Regions from separate parts of the Homo sapiens genome. Here region 2 is linked to region 1. Evidence: fine-mapped expression QTL. A gene starts in region 1. The other region holds a variant in brackets. All regions are shown on one strand. Distances are from middle to middle.

What was found. PIP is the estimated chance that this variant, and not a neighbour inherited with it, causes the effect.
Region 2: its variant is fine-mapped to the expression of TRPV1 in whole blood (TOPMed, PIP 0.91).

What each region holds. Positions count from the first base shown.
Region 1 is chr17:3,608,091-3,610,994 of GRCh38, forward strand. It overlaps TRPV1 (transient receptor potential cation channel subfamily V member 1), which reads right to left and starts at 1,321. Exons shown (of 17, transcript NM_080704.4): 1 at 1,219-1,321; 2 at 337-475. SHPK (sedoheptulokinase) reads right to left here. Exons shown (of 7, transcript NM_013276.4): 7 at 150-2,882. The coding sequence ends at 2,470. RefSeq lists an enhancer at 1,211-1,712.
Region 2 is chr17:3,630,037-3,632,940 of GRCh38, forward strand. It overlaps SHPK (sedoheptulokinase), which reads right to left. Exons shown (of 7, transcript NM_013276.4): 2 at 169-310. Among named protein-coding and RNA genes, the nearest start is that of SHPK, 4.8 kb to the right of the region's middle. The variant C/T (reference allele first, on the strand shown) is at 1,688.

The DNA of each region.
Region 1 (2,904 bases):
ATCTCAGCTACTCAGAAGGGTGAGGCAAGAGAATCGCTTGAACCCGGGAGGCAGAGGTTGCAGTGAGCCAAGATTGCACCACTGTACTCCAGCCTGGGTGACACAGTGAGACTATGTCTCAAAAAAAAAAAAAAAAAGGCAAAAAAAACTAGCACGAATTTCTTTTTCTTTAGAATTTCACAGATAGAAGATTCAGCATATGACTGTTTTCTTCCCATCTTTTCACTTAAAGGAAGCACCTTACGGTTTCTCTTTGGCATATCCGAACAGCCAGCATCACTACCAGCATCACTACTCTGGTGCTTTGGGGCCCTAATGAAGTAAAAAAAGACTGACCTGAACAGAAGCACTGTGATACCAGGACGGGCGATCTGACGACTAAGTGACTGACCGGCGGGGAGCATCTACGGCCTGGACGTGGGGAACACAGGGACGGTTTGCATCCCAGATGGCACGGCAGAGACTCTCCATCACACTGCTCAGAACAATGCACAAGGGAAAACTTGGGAACTGTTTGAAGAATTTTCCATTTAATATTGTCAGACCGTGGTTGACCGCAGATAACTGAACCCATGGAAAGTGACACCGTGGATAAGGGGGGACTACTGTGGACAGCTTTCCTGGGTGATTGGGAGACGTTTTTCTGGTAGAACACCAGGGCAAGGCTTTTCTGAGGATGATCTACGAATTCTCCCCAGAGCACTTCAACCTCCCAAACCAAGCTCTGCGGCTGTGCCATTGCACAGTCTTCCCACAGCAGAGAGGTGTGTTTTATTTAAGGCACAAGACTCTGGAAGAATGGGCTTTGTATTTATTTATGAGACAGAGTCTTGCTCTGTCACCCAGGCTGGAGTGCAATGGCGCGATCTCAGCTCACTGCAACCTCTGCCTCCCGAGTTCAAGTGATTTTCCTGCCTCAGCCTCCTGAGTAGCTGGGATTACAGGCATGCGCCACCACGCCCGGCTTGTATTTTTAGTAGAGACGGGGTATCCCCATGTTGGTCAGGCTGGTCTTGAACTCCTGACCTCAGGTGATTCACCCACTTGGGCTTCCCAAAGTGCTGGGATTACAGGCGGGAGCCAACATGCCCGGCCAAGAATGGGCTTTAGTATCTGACATTTGGCCAGAGTGATCAGGCATTTGCTCTCATCTTAGAGCTTCCAGATAATCACATAATTTGTAAAATGACATTTATAAAGAGACAATATGTTTCATACCTGTCATGGATACTGAGAGAGAGAGAGAGAGAGAGAGAGAGAATACGACTGCTTCCCAAACTCGTGGTTGCCAGCGTGACTCTGGGCCAGGCCTGCCTGAGCCTGGGCTCCTTTGGGAGTCTAGAAGTAGATGCGGCAATGGTGGCCCCCTCCTGGAAGCCACCCCACAGCCATCCCTACCAATCACAAGAAGGCTTACAACGCTCTGGGATCCCTACAGGGATGCCAACTCAAATGGATGTTTCTGCTGAGCCAGGAGCACACACTGGGCCAGCAAAGCCCACGCCAAGCGAAAGGAGAGCCTGGGCCTATGGGATACAGAGTTCTCTTTGAATAAACTACCTGCCCCATCTGGCAGGAGTCTGCCTGGCTGCATCCCTTCCCATGAGGGCTTCTGGAATGTGCAGGGGCAAAAACACTGCTGCACAGACATGCTCCTGGCAAGGGGTCCTGCTGGTGCCTTGTCAGGTTCTGGAGTGGTGTGAGCTGCACAGCATCGGTCCCCCTTGCTGCTCATGCCATCCGCCTCTCCTTCTCGCAACCTGCCTTCCAGGCAGTTGTGCTGTGAAGACCTGGGCGGCCTGGGTGCAGCAAGCTCTCCTGAGGCTGAGTACATGCAGCAAGAAGGCCGGCACACAGCCCCGCATCGTCTTCTGAGCCTGCCTGCTGCATCGCGCTTGGGTCAATCCCTGGCCCAGCTAAGCATCTGCAGCCAGGGGAGGATGAGACTAGGAAAGGGGCCTCCGGTCACATGGTTCAGTCCAGGAGACAAGAACTTTTCCAGAAGTCCATACGACCCGAGTGTGGGCTTCAGGTCTCCAAAAACGATAATCACAAGCTGGGCATGGGGCAGTTCTCTTTTCCCACTTGGGACCAAAGCCACCAGACTTTCTGGTGTCTGAAGTACACATTGATCTGCTCTCTGTCTACAGGTGAACCACAGATGAGCCTGCTGACCAGCAGGCTGGGCTACTGTGCTCTCATGCTCTCTCTCTCCCACATGGACATTTGTAAATAGCTCCCAGGTGGGTCAATTTCGGAAGGCACTCATTTGGGATCTGGCTGACGGCTCCTGGCTGCATTATTAGAGTATGTTCTGAAGGTAAGTTCTTGGCCGAGATGGGACCTCACAACAAGCACTGCTTGAAAGCTGTCCACTGAACGGTCCAGGGAAAGGATGACCCACAGATGGTGTCAGGAATGTTAATCAGGTAAAATTCACAGCAGTCGTTTGGCGAAAGAGTTTGCTGTCTAAGATTCCTTCTGGTTGAGGTGTCTCCGGAGCATGACCAGAGCTGCCCCGACAGCTGCATCCACATCCTGCCCAAAGGACATGGGCAAAGGGAAAGCCCTCTGCACCTCCTGCTTCAGCACGTCATTCCTGGACAGCGCACTCCCACTGCCCATCACCCTCTCCACGCCCCACTCCTGGAGCTGCTGAATCGGAAGCATGGAGTGCAGGTTCTGAACAATGCCTCGGCACAGAGCCCGGGTCACGTGCCCCAGGGAGAGGTCGGAGGAGGAGATTCTGGTCACTGAGGCCAGCTGGTCCGGCAGGTGCCTCTCCCCCAGCACTGTCGGGGTGATGGTCAGGTGGGTATCTCTCTGCTGCACAGCTGCCTGAATCATGCGTGAATACACAGTGGATTCTTCAACCTCCAGGCCTGCCAGAGACAGAGAAGATCT
Region 2 (2,904 bases), 22 kb after region 1:
CAGAATGCTCACCCACGCAGGAGGCAGCACGTATTCGTCCACTCCAAGAAACAAGACCCTATTCCCACTGCAGGATAACCCGACCCTTCACAGAAAGCCCCGCACAGCACTGCTCTAGTTCTGGAAGTGACTGCTACCAGCCTGAGAGCATCCCCGAGCCCAGCATACCTTGGCCTGTTTTCCAAAACACGACTCCATGCATCTGGCCCGACACCCCGATGCCCACGACGCTCCGGAGCTGGGGTCGGGGAAGGGCAGCAAGGCACTCGTGTAGGGCTTGGAGGATTCTACTCACATCCTGCTCCCGCCCCTGGAAGCAAAAGAGAACACATGGGCAGGGGCAGACACACAGGCAGGGGGAGGGGCGCAGGCCTCCCGGGATGTCCTGGAGGAGGAATGCAGTGGGCAGCATCCACTCCCTAACTTCACAGTTGAGGCACTGCTGCAGGTGAGTTGCAGCAAACTGCCTGGGCCTGCCCTCCACTGGGGTCAGACTCAGCTGAGAACAGCATTCTCTGTGCTATAAATAGAAGAAATAAGGCCAGGCACTGGTGGCTCAAGCCTATAATCCCAGCACTTTGGGAGGCCAAGGTGGGTGGATCACCTGAGGTCAGGAGTTCGAGACCAGCCTAGCCAAACAACATGATGAAACCCCGTCTCTACTAAAAATACAAAAAATTAGCCGGGTATGGTGGCATGCACCTGTAATCCCAGCTACTCAGGAGGCTGAGGCAGGAGAATCGGTTGAATCTGGGAGGCGGAGGTTGCGGTGAGCCGAGATCACGCCACGGCACTCCAGCCTGGGTGACAAAGTGAGACTCCATCTCAAAAAAACCAACTAGAGGAATCCACAGAAAGTTCAGAAGAGAAGAAGGGGAAGAGAATTGTGGCTCAGCTCTCAATAAATGTCAGCTCTTTGAGGAACTAGCAAAGCTAAGGTCTTAGAAAGGCATCTGAAGGCTGAGTTCTCAGACGTCTTGCTTCCCTCCCGGGAGTGCTGTCTTCCCCTCCTCGGAAAACCTCTCGCTTGCCCCTGTCAGCCTGCGGCCTTGGTCAGGGGCAGCTCTTGGCTCCTAACAAGCAGGAACAAAGAAGAGAAAGAAGGGAGGAGAGGAGGGGTAGGATGGGGCAGGGAGTACAGGGGAAGCACAGCCTTTTCCTAGGAAGCAGCCCCAGAGCTCAACAAGGATTCTACATGCAAGAGAGGCCACAGCCAAGAGGAAGTGGAAGACAAGAGGCACAGAGGAGCCAGGTGGCTATGCAGGATCACCAGAGGGAGGAAAGAAGAGCAGGGTGGGGACATGGGGGTGGGGGGCAGGAAGAAGGGTTCTGGGAATAGACATTTGTTTAGACCCTCACTGTCCAATACTGAAATCGTTAGCCACTTGTGGCTAGTCTGAATTGACATGTAAATGTAAAACATGCACCGGACTACAATTTAGTATGACAAAAAATATACACTATCTAATTTAATGCTTTTTTTTTTTTTTTTTTTTTTTTTTTAGCGATAGAGTCTCTCTCTATTGCTCAGGCTAGAGTGCAGTGGCATAATCTTGGCTCACTGCAACCTCTGCCTCCCAGGTTCAAGTGATTCTCCTGCCTTAGCCTCCGGAGTAGCTGGGATTACAGGCTCACACCACCACGCCGGGCTAATTTTTGTATTTTTAGTAGAGACGGGGTTTCGCCA[C/T]GTTGGCCAGGCTGGTCTCAAACTCCTGGCCTCAGGGATTCACCCACCTCGGCCTCCCAAAGTGCTGGGATTACAGGTGTGAGCCACCGCACCCAGCCTTGATTATCACACATCAAACTGATAATGTGCTGGATACACTGGGTTAAATAAAATATGCAATTAAAATTAATTTCACTTGTTTATTTTAATAGGGCTGCTAGAAAATTGAAAAGGCCACGCCTGGCTCCATTTGTAGGTTACATTTCTTTTTTTTTGAGACGGAATCTCACTGTCACCAGGTTGGAGTGCAGTGGTGTGATCTCAGCTCACTGCATCGTCTGCCTCCCAGGTTCATGCGAGTCTCCTGCCTCAGCCTCCCAAGTACCTGGGACTATAGGTGCGCGCCACCACACCCGGCTAATTTTTGTATTTTTAGTAGAGACGGGGTTTCACCATGTTGGCCAGGATGGTCTCGATCTCTTGACCTCGTGATTCGCCCGCCTCGGCCTCCCAAAGTGCTGGCATTACAGGCGTGAGCCACCGCGCCTGGCCTGCAGGTCATATTTCTACTGGACAGAGCTAGTTTAAAGAGTCCTCCCAGCTGGGCGCAGCGGCTCACGCCTATAATCGCAGCCACTGGGAAGGTTGAAGCAGGAGATCACTTGATCCCAGAACTTTGAGACCAGCCTGAGACCAGCCTCAGCAACACAGTAAGACTCCACATGGCCATGGGGTGGTGTGTCATCCCAGGACAGAGCTGCTGTTTCAAATGGTCCCAGGGTGAGTGGGTGCGTGAGTTGTGTGGGGGGAGACACGGGAAGAAGTAAGCAGGCTGGATGTGGTAAAGACAAGGAGGCAGTGTTCAGCAGTTAGAAACAGTTTTAGGGGCGGGTGTGATTGGGGAGTAGCTCTTGGACAGACCCCCAGTGTAACAGGAATAGACATTGCCCCCACTCCTTGGCTCAGAATATCAGTTGGTCTACATCCACGTCGAATCCTCGCGCTTTAGACTTGCACACAGTACTTAGAAGCTCATTAAATCCTACTCCTCAGGCCTCTTTTTACAGCGGAGGAAACTGATGCCCAGAGAGGAAAAATAAATATAAACTGTGAAAGGGTCACAGAACTGCCCTCGAAAACCTTGTATTTTAAATGGGCAAATACCAAAAACTGATTGTCTGCACAGCTGCCAAGCTTGACCCTGGTATAGCTAATACTTATGAGTGAAAAGTATGAAC